2 separate regions of the Homo sapiens genome follow, and region 1 is linked to region 2. The links come from fine-mapping of genetic effects on plasma protein levels. A gene starts in region 2. The other region holds a variant in brackets. All regions are shown on one strand. Distances are from middle to middle.

Region 1 (5,000 bases), 18 kb after region 2:
TTTATTAGGCAGGAATTTCCTCGTCCTAATAAGCCTGGGAGCACTACAGGAGACCAGAGCTTATTTCATCCCTCAGCAACGATCATAAAAGACAGCCATCCCCAAAGCGGCCATTTCAGAGGCCTCCCCTTAGGGACATATTCTCTTTCTCAGGGATGTTCCTTGCTGAGAAAAAGAATTCAGTGATATCTCTCCTATTTGATTTAGAAAGAAGAAAAATATGACTCTGTTCCACCCAGCTCACAGGCAGCCAGAGTTTAAGGTTATCTCCCTTGTTCCCTGAACATTGCTGTTATCCTGTTCTTTTTTCAAGGTGCCCAGATTTCATATTGTTTAAACAATTTGTGCAGTTAACACAATTATCACAGGGTCCTGAGGTGACATTCATCCTCAGTTTACAAAAATGATGGGATTAAGAGATTAAAGTAAAGACAGGCATAGGAAATCACAAGGGTATTGACTGTGGAAGTGATAAGTGTCCATGAAATCTTCACAATTTATGTTCAGAGATTGCAGTAAAGACAGGCATAAGAAATTATAAAAGTATTAATTTGGGGAACTAATAAATGTCCATGAAATCTTCAAAATTTATGTTCTTCTGCCATGGCTTCAGTTGGTCCCTCCATTCGGGGTCCCTGACTTCCCGCAACAAGATGAGACCTGATGGAGAAGAGGATTGTGGTGAGGGAGGGAGGACACTTTCAAGGAACTGGAGAGTGGTCAGTTCTTGATGACTGAACCATAGACAGAACAGTGGAGAACCACAAGATAAGGTTGGGGAAGACAACATCATTAGAACCTACTTAGAAGCAGAGTAAGGGCTTGGGCCATATTCTGCAGGGCAATCTGGGCTCCATGAAGGTTTTAAATGTTGGGGAAAACCACTCCAGCAGTACAGTGGGGATCAGGTCATAGAGCAACCTGTTTGAGGAGCAGCCAGGCGTGAAGGAGGGAGCCCAACAAGGGAGTGTCCAGTTGGACAGAACCCCCAGTCTAGTCCCAGTAGAGGAAATGGGACATGAGAAGGAAGGACTCTGGCCAAGGGAAAAGGCACTCACTGTGAGAGTGTGCCCCACTGTCACCAAGGGTAGAACATGTTCTAAGCAGATGATAGTGAGCCAGTTTGGATAAGGCAAAGCTAAGAGATGATGAAAGATAAAAACTGAGTCATGGCCAGGAGAGGTGGCTCATGCCTGTAATTCCAGCACTTTGGGAGGCTGAGGCAGGTGGATCACCTGAGGTCAGGAGTTTGAGACCAGCCTGGCCAACATAGTGAAATCCTGTGTCTACTAAAAATACAAAAATTAGCCAGGTGTGGTGGCGGTCGCCTGTAACGCCAGCTACTCAGGAGGCTGATGCAGGAGAATTGCTTGAATTCGGGAGGCAAAGTTTGCAGTGAGCTGAGATCATGCCACTGAATTCCAGGCTGGGTGACACAGTGAGACTCCATCTCAAAAAAAAAAAAAAAACTGAGTCACATCCAGTGAATTTAGCCACAAAGTACCCTTTGGCAGAAGAACACAGACTAGAACCAGAATACCTGGGTTTGACTGCTGCCTCTTCACTTACTAGCTGTGTGACTCAACCACTCGGGGCCTCAGTATTTTCATCTGTGACATAGGGACAACAATAATACCTACCTCATTGAATTGTTTTGATGATTAACTTAGTGTCTTTATACATATAGATATTCACAAATTACATCTGACAAATATACACACACCAGAACTTAAAGGCACTATAATCTCATTATAACAAATATCTTTTTTATATTTATCATTATCATCATTACTACATTCATAAACATGAAAAATCAGCTTTAGTAGATTATTGGGGGTAAAAACTGAGTTGTAATGGACAGAATATGCATATGAGATATGAGATAAAGAAGTAGAGATGATAAATGTAGGTCACTTCTTCCAGAAGTCTGTCCACAGAAAAGTGGAGGAACCAACTGTGAGGAACTTCAAATACAAATAAAGTTGTTTTTGAATTGTCTGATAGTTTTTCTTATATGGAGATAGTTAAACACACCAAAATGTAGTTTGGAAGAAGCCAAAAGAGGTAAGGACTTTATGTCTAGGACAGAGGCAGATGTGCACAAGGTCAAGAGACATAGGAAAATCCCCCTTGGGCAGGCCAGGCATGGCTCTTCCATGGTTGCAGGGAAGCCTGCATGGTTGCAGGAAGAAGTGAGGAGCGGTGCAAGTGAGTCTGGTGGTGGCAAGACAAGGAATTTTTTCCTTGAAAGCATCATCTCCTCTGCAAAAAGGAGGCAGGTCACACTACAAGAGGAGCCATGAGAGAAGAAGAGAGTATTGGTCTCCTGGAAAGATGAACAGATAGGGAAAGACCAGCATGGAGGGCTGGTCACAGAAACCTGAGAAGTTGCTTGGCTGCCCTCCAGGTAGGTGAAGTCTAGAGATCCTGTACTGGAGACTGGGCATCTGCACTGGCCAAGTGTTGAAATCTACAGTAAGAGGCAAAAGCAACTCTTGATTCAATCTTTCTCTTCCTCAGTCCCTGTGTCTCATCCTGTCCTCACCCTCAGCTCTGCTGAGGCCCTGACTTTTGAAGGAGCCACTGTGACACTTCACTGTGAAGTCCAGAGAGGTTCCCCACAAATCCTATACCAGTTTTATCATGAGGACATGCCCCTGTGGAGCAGCTCAACACCCTCTGTGGGAAGAGTGTCCTTCAGCTTCTCTCTGACTGAAGGACATTCAGGGAATTACT[A/G]CTGCACAGCTGACAATGGCTTTGGTCCCCAGCGCAGTGAAGTGGTGAGCCTTTTTGTCACTGGTAAGTGCTGGGTTCTTGCCAGTCACCCACCCCTGGCTGAGTTCTCTCTCACCCATTCCTTTAAAAATCTGTTTGCACTGTCCAGTTTCCTCCCCTAATCAACTTAATCCCCTTCTTGGCTTCCTCCTCAACTAACTAGCTGGGGTTTTCCGTACTCATAAGTCCTGGCTCAGCCAGACCCCTAAAACAGCTCAGTAGATTCCCCAGCTTTTACCAAATGAATTTATTTATTGTATTTTCTCCTCATTCCTTGTATGTTCCAACAGTACGCCAATTTTTCTTGATGCACGGAGCGTGTCCTACTTCTCTACTGACATTTACATATTAACTTAGCTACAAGCACAGTCTTATAGATAAATATTGGTCAAGACCTTAAATTCTCCAAAGGATTTCCAATCTTATGGTAGATTTGGAGAAAGCTGCTGGTGAACAAAGGGGGAAATGGCTCCCTAGGAACCAACTCCTCAAACTTCTGGAGTTTTTATGATCCCTTGTTTTCTAACCTGCTAAAATCAGTATCATTTTATTGTATTATTTTAAAAAAACTATTGTTGAAGTATGACATACATTCAAGAAACGTGTGCAAATTGTATGTGTACGATTTGGTGTCTTTTTAGGAGCTAAGTTGCTTCTGTTTTTACTTGAATCTTTGTTTATAGAAACTGGGGGAAAGTTTACTTTCTTTTCAGAGAAGCCAAATGGTATGATAGAAAAATCTTGAGCCTGATGTGTCAGACATGCCCCTAGCATAACTTGTTGAGTAAAGAGGTTATTTTTAAAATGTGAATGTTCTGAGACTACTCCAAAGTCAGAGCCAAATCTACTAGGAAGCTTCTAGACTTCACTCATTCTGCATCCCATTACTATCTTTTTATCCATGTTTTACTTTCTTCTCATATTCAGCAGCATCTTAAGCCTCTTTATTTTCTGTTTCTTGACTGTCACCCTTAATGCCAGTAGAATGTAAGCTTCATGAGAACAGAACTGCATCCATCTTGGTCTTCACAACATCCCTGTGCCTACTCAGTGTTTGGCACACAGTAGGTCCTCAGTCAACATTTGTAATTTAGTGGACAGATGATATGACAAGATGATAAGAGGGGATTTAAAAAAATCATCTAGCAAAGCCCAAGAGGAAAAAAAACAAAGCTATTTTAGAAATGAAATACCAATTTGAAGCAGTAAGAATAGATTGGATATCTTTGAAAACCATTAATTGAATGAAGAACCAATTTGAGAAAACAATACAGAATGCAAAGTAGAAAGATACAGAAATAAAGGCAAAAATTATAATATGGAAATCAGACAATGGATTTGTCTGTATCCAGTTATGTGGATAATTAAAATGGAGACCCTCAGAAAATTGAACCGAAGAGTAAAATGAAACTCAAAAATGTAGTAGAAATTGTTGGGAAGTAAAGAAAACTTGAATATGTAGATCAGAACATATATGTTGATGACGTTATTGACTTTGAGGTTAAAAATATATATATGTGCCTATGATTATGGGGAAAAAAGCAGTCGTCTCAGAAAGAAAAACATCAAGTTAGTCTTAGACTTTGCAGTGCACTCAATACCAAAGAGAGAGGAGGTCCAGACTTGGACCTGCGAGGGAAGAATAATAACCGAAAATTTTATATCAATTCAAAAAGACATTGTCAAAAATACAGGGATTCAGGAAACTGAGAATGCACTAAGCCTTCTGGAAAAAACACCTAATGACAAAATCTAGCCCAACAAGATGTAAATGAATATAAAGGACTCATAATGAGGAAACCGCATTATGACTGGCTCTCAACCCTGGCTGCATATTAGACTCGTCAAAGACCTTTGTAAAAGGTCACACATTGACTCGTCAAAGCCCCTCTCCAGACTAATTCAATTCAGAATCTCACAGATGGGGCCACAGAATCAGTATTTTTTGACACAACCTCAAGTGAGAATATTGTGTAGACAAGATTGGAAACCACTGATTTAGATATAGAAACAAAGGCTAATCAACTGTGAGAATTATGGTCACAGAATAGAAAGTAACTATTATGAACACTGAAAATGTAAAAAAAATGTAACAAAGAAAAATAGTTAGAGGAAGGAGAGGAAGTAAAGGAACAATCATTTTCTCATGATTATTATTATTTCAGAGTAAATTGTGAGTTATTTCACAATTCAAAAAGAATGGACTGTTTTAAAAAATTAGTAAT
Region 2 (5,540 bases):
AGCCTAAGTAAGTACCTTTACCAGTAAAATCTTCCAAACATTTAAGGAAGAAATAACATCAGTCGTACACAAACTCTTCACGAAAATAGAAAAAGAAGGAGCTTGCTTATGAGACCAATATAATTTTGTTACTAAAATTCATCAAGAAAGAAAATTGGTCCATCTTCCTCATGAACACAAATGCTAAAAAGCACAGCAAATTTATAAGTCAAATTCAAGAATATATAAAAAAGATAACACATCATGGCCAAGTTGGAATGCACAGTTGATTTTACATTTATAATCATCCATGTAATTCATCATATTAACAATAAAAGTAAATAATCATATGATCATATTAATAGAGGCAATAAAGGTATTTACTGAAACAGCATCCATTATTTAGGAAAAAAGGAAAATTTCTTAGCAAATTAGAAATATAAGGAAAGGTATTTAATCTGATACATAGTATTCACCAAAAAAAATTACAGAAAATATTATATTTAATATTGAAATATTAAGAGCTTTTTCTGTGAGACTAAGACAGGACACCTGATATTACCACTTCTCTTTAGTATCATGTTTGAGTTCCTAGTCAGTGCAATAAGTGAGAGAAAAGGAAGTTTAAGTATTAAAAATAATGAATAAAACTATCATTATATGATTGTGTTTGCATGAAATCTAAAATAACCTAAAGATAAACTATTAAAATTAATAAGTAAATTCCGCAATTTTAGTAGATATTAAAAGGTCAGTAAGGCCGGGCATGGTGGCTCACGCTTGTAATCCTAGCACTTTTGGAGGCCAAGGCGGGCAGATAACTTGAGGTCAGGAGTTTGAGACCAGCCTGGCCAACATGGTGAAACCTCATCTCTACTAAAAATACAAAAATTAGCTGGGCATGGTGGCAGACACCTATAATCCCAGCTACTTGGGACGCTAAGGCAGGAGAATCGCTTGAACCTGGGAGGTGGAGGTTGCAATGAGCCAAGATCGCACCAGTGCACTCCAGCCTGGGGGACAAGAGCAAAACTCTGTCTCAAAAAAATAAAAATAATGGTCAGTAAAACAAAAAAGTATTATATTTCTATATACCAATATACATTTAGAAAAAAATCTAATGATGTCACTTACAATATCATAAAAAACATATCAATAACCTAAGGATAAACCTACCAAAAGATATACTTTCCAGAGGCAAAGCTATAGAAAATTACTGAAAGAATGTCAAGTTAACCTAAATAAATGAGGGGATATTGTATGTTTATGGATTGGGAGACTAAATCTTTTCTAATTTATACAAATTAACTTATAAATCCAATGCAATCCCAGTTATTAAAAATCTACTAGGCTTTTGGGGAGAGAGGGGACAGGAATTGACAAGGTGATTTTTAAATGTATAGAAAAATTCAAAAAGCCAAAAATAGCCATAACAATTTTGAAGAAGAACAGCATTTTATGACTTAAACTATCAGTTAATAAGAGTTATTATAAAGCCACAATAATTAGAAGAGTGTGGTATTGGCATGAGGATAGACAAAATAGACTAATGGACAAGAAAGGAGTTTCCAAAAATAGACCTACATGGCTTTTTGTTTTATAACAAAGGTGAAATTGCACTGTACTGTGGAAAAAATCAACTTTCAATAAATAGGGCAGGATAAATTATCTGTATTTAAGTTAAAAGTGAATATAAACACTCAAACTGTACACAAAAATCAATTGCAATGCTCTTATAAATATAAAATAAATGGTAAAAAATAAAGTTTCTAGAAGATAACCTGGGAGAGTATCTTTATGATCTTGGAGTAGACTAACTTTCTTAGAAGGGATGCAAAAATCTCTAACCACAAAGGAGAAGACTGATAAACTGGACTATGTCAAAGTTAGAATGGTTGTTCATCAAAAGGCACTATCAATGAGCAAAGAAGCAAGCCACAGATTGAAGGAAGACATTTGCAATACATATATCCAACAAAAGGTTTATATTCAGGGTTTAAAATAACTACAAAACAGGAAAAGAAAGACTGAAAGTTAAGAGAAAAATGAGGAAATATTTGAACAGAGATTGCACATAAAAAGGATATCTACATCACCAATTAGACTATGAAAAAATGCTCATTCTCAAATTCACCAGAGACATACAAATTAAAACCACATTGAGATAATTCTAGCAGAACGGCCAGATTTTACTAGATGACAATACCAATATCAGCAAGAATTTTAGAACAATGATAACTCTCATACATTGGTTGGTGGGTGTGGTGGGAATTGGCACAACCACTTTGGAAAATAATTTGGTAATACTTCCTAAACTGAATATATGCATACCTTATGAGCCAGGACTTCCACTCCCAGATATATACCCAACAGAATTATGTGCGCATATGCCCCAATAAATGTATACAAGAATGTTCATAGCAGCACTATTTGTTTTAGCACCAAAAGTAGGTAAAGATTCTGTGTTCCCTTTGAAGTTCTCCTCTTAATCTCTATTCACCCCTGTAACCCCTGTATGGTTTTCTTGCCTCAGGGTGCAGTGGGTCAGATGTGACATAATATACCTAAGGTGATGTGCATTTGTAGATATAAAATTAAATGCCCCCTTAGGAAGACCAAGGTATGGGCCCAGAGAGAAAGGGTGAGAAAATATTTGAAAGAAAGAAACTGGCACTCCTCGTGGCAGCTAATGTCTTAGGAACCTCTGTTGACCAGTATACCAGGATGGAAACTTGACTTTTAGAAAATCATAAGAGCTATACATTCACCTGGTAATTTTTTAAAAAATCAAACGGTACAGAAATACATAAAATAAATTGTGTTCTTCCCACCTATTGCTCCTCAAACATAATCAATATTTTTGTGTGTACTTTCCAGGAAAAGAAGAAAGTATACTTAAAAGAGTTGATGTACACATATATCCTATTTTTTATATTTACCCAATGGGATAATACTACAAAACCAATCTATATCTCACTTTTATTCTCTTCACATCAAACAAGGTGGTCTTCCCTTCTTGGCATGTTCAGATTTACCTTATTCTTTAATGATTGCTTGTCACCATACGGATGAATCAGAATATTCTTAAACAGTCCCCATATCATGGTTTTTTGTTTTGTTTCCAGTGTTTAGGCAATAATGAATGCTACAATAAACGTTCTTATAGTACTCTCTTCAGATACTTCCTTCAGGGTAATTTCCCAATAGCAAAAATGTAGGGTCAAGGGTATTTGATTTTTTAAAACCTTAACTTTTTTTTTTCTTTGATCATCGGGTAGGAAACTGTGATTAGCAGCTGAAGACGGGTACTCCCACTTCCTTTTTTCAATTCACTAATGCATTCTGCTCTTTTTGAGAGCACAGCTTCTCAGATGTGCTCCTTGGAGCTGGTGTGCAGTGTCCTGACTGTAAGATCAAGTCCAAACCTGTTTTGGAATTGAGGAAACTTCTCTTTTGATCTCAGCCCTTGGTGGTCCAGGTCTTCATGCTGCTGTGGGTGATATTACTGGTCCTGGGTGAGTAAAAGGGCTCACCATGGGCCCTGGGTGGGATCGGGACAGCTTCTCTCTCCACCGCAGGCCTGGTCCTTTCTTGGGGCTCAGCCCCTGCTGAGAGACTCTCTCCTACATTAGGAGACTGTATTTTTGAACTTTACTCTGTAGCTCAGGGCTTTCTCTTGAGGCTGAAGAAAATGGCCACAGCTGGAAGGAATTTTCAATCTTACAGAGTAGGAAACCACAATAACCACAACAATTAAAATTTCATTTATTTTTTTCTTTAAAAAGTACTTCTTAAAGTCCAGAGAATGTTTCATGTTTGTTTGTTCATATTGTCTTACTCATAGAAGAGCCCACTCTCCTCTCTGCAGAGGAGATGTATTTATTCCTTGTATGACAAGGCCAGATCCTGGTCCCCAGCATAAGAGGCAAGGTTTCTAACGGGAAAGACAGGTCTTTCTCTTGTACATAATTGCAAACCACTGCAGCAATTGGCTGATTAAGAACATGGGGTGGAGGAGGTCGCAGAGGCGTAGGTGGACAAAGCAAGGATAAATCTAAAGCATATGACTTTCTCTTTGTCCCTGTGGGTGTACGTAAGTCTCTATCAACTCATATGTGCGAACTGGTTGATTTTTACTAAAGGTTAAATATTATAATTAAATATGTTTATTTATTTGTTCAGCAAATGTGTTTAGTAATATCTATGCACAGGTGCTGAGCAATTAGAGTCCATAGGAGACACTACGTCTATGTTCTGGAAAGTCATGACATAGAAGGGCTCCCAGCAAGGCCAATGTACTTTCAAGCAGCTATGCAACAAGCTCCCAGTTAAATAATTGTCCAGGCAAAGTTACCAATGAATGCTGTAGGCAGATAATAAACTGTATTCAAAATAGCTAGTAAAGACTTCATGAAACTTAGAGGTGAGTAGGAGCTAGAGGAGCAGAAATGGAGCAGGCGTGATATAAGAAAAGAGGACCTCACAGTTGGAAGGTGCATGGACTATAATTCCTGAAGTAGGAATACATCTCAGTGTGGCCCCACACAATGTGGGTAATGGCCAGGTCCTGAGCATGAGAGGGCAAAGTTTATAACATGGGCTCTGGGGTCAAACAGGATCTAGGTTCAAACTTCATCTTGCCACCTACTGGCTACCAGATTCCTGGTCTACAAAATGCAGTTAATCCTAGTGCTTACCTCACAGGATTATTGACATGGTTATATGAAATAACCTACGTAAATGCAGACCATATAGAAACCACTCACAAAAATATTAGCTTCATTTAAAACAATGCAAAGATGAAGGAAGCCAAAATATTCAGGTGAATGGTGAATAATTTGTTGTTCTCAGTAAAACACTTAAGTTTGGATAAGTCTCCAATAGCCTCATGTGGACAGGGATGATTTGTCTCTCACACACTCCTGGATTTCTATTGCCTTGCTCTGGAGTATGATTGGCATTCCAAAAATCTGTTGAATAAATAAATCAACCCATATGCAGAATACCTACTCAATTGATAAACCTGCCAGTTTTGTGTCCTCTCTCTCTTCATTACCCATTTCTCAAATCTCTATCCTTCTATTCCTATATTATTAACCTAGTTCTTTAATTAATTCATTATACAACACAAATATATTTAGTGAACATTAAAGGAATATCTTTTATATGCCATTCACCGTTATAGGTCCTGGAGGATATATGGTGAACATAAGGAAAGTCCTAGGTCTCATAGAGCTTGCATTATAGAGAAGGGAAAATAAACAAGCAGATAATGAAGATAATTTGGATAAATACTCTGACAAAAATTACACATTACCATCTCTTGGGCTGAGCATCAGGTCTAAATAATCTGAGCATCAGTTGATTGTTTAAAAATTAGGCATGATGATAATGAGCCCTTGGATTCAATGATCTCATGAAAAGAGTATAGCCTGGAGTCTGGTGCCCAAGGGAGGCTTAATTCATGTCCATTTCCTTGCCCTGCCTTCTAATCAGTCTCCCTGCTTCATATTGTCCCATTAAATTCTGTCCACTGACAGAGTGCTCCATCAAAGTCTGAA

Direction of the effects. Positions count from the first base shown, and alleles are read on the strand shown. Strength reflects both the effect of a copy and how common the allele is.
As copies of G replace A in region 1, the plasma level of the protein whose gene starts at base 3,311 in region 2 goes down (weak association).

Evidence for each region. PIP is the chance, under the fine-mapping model, that this variant and not a neighbour inherited with it causes the effect. Protein levels are from antibody-based Olink assays in UK Biobank. Linkage for the fine-mapping came from a reference panel and not from the study's own genotypes, which makes the PIPs less certain.
Region 1: its variant is fine-mapped to the plasma level of the FCRL5 protein (UK Biobank, PIP above 0.99). The variant lies in the coding sequence of FCRL5. If it changes the protein, the assay may bind it differently, which can mimic a change of level.

Annotation. Positions count from the first base shown.
Region 1 is chr1:157,532,413-157,537,412 of GRCh38, reverse strand. FCRL5 (Fc receptor like 5) reads left to right here. Exons shown (of 17, transcript NM_031281.3): 8 at 2,521-2,799. Among named protein-coding and RNA genes, the nearest start is that of FCRL5, 18 kb to the left of the region's middle. The variant A/G (reference allele first, on the strand shown) is at 2,737.
Region 2 is chr1:157,550,286-157,555,825 of GRCh38, reverse strand. FCRL5 (Fc receptor like 5) reads left to right here and starts at 3,311. Exons shown (of 17, transcript NM_031281.3): 1 at 3,311-3,494. The coding sequence starts at 3,464.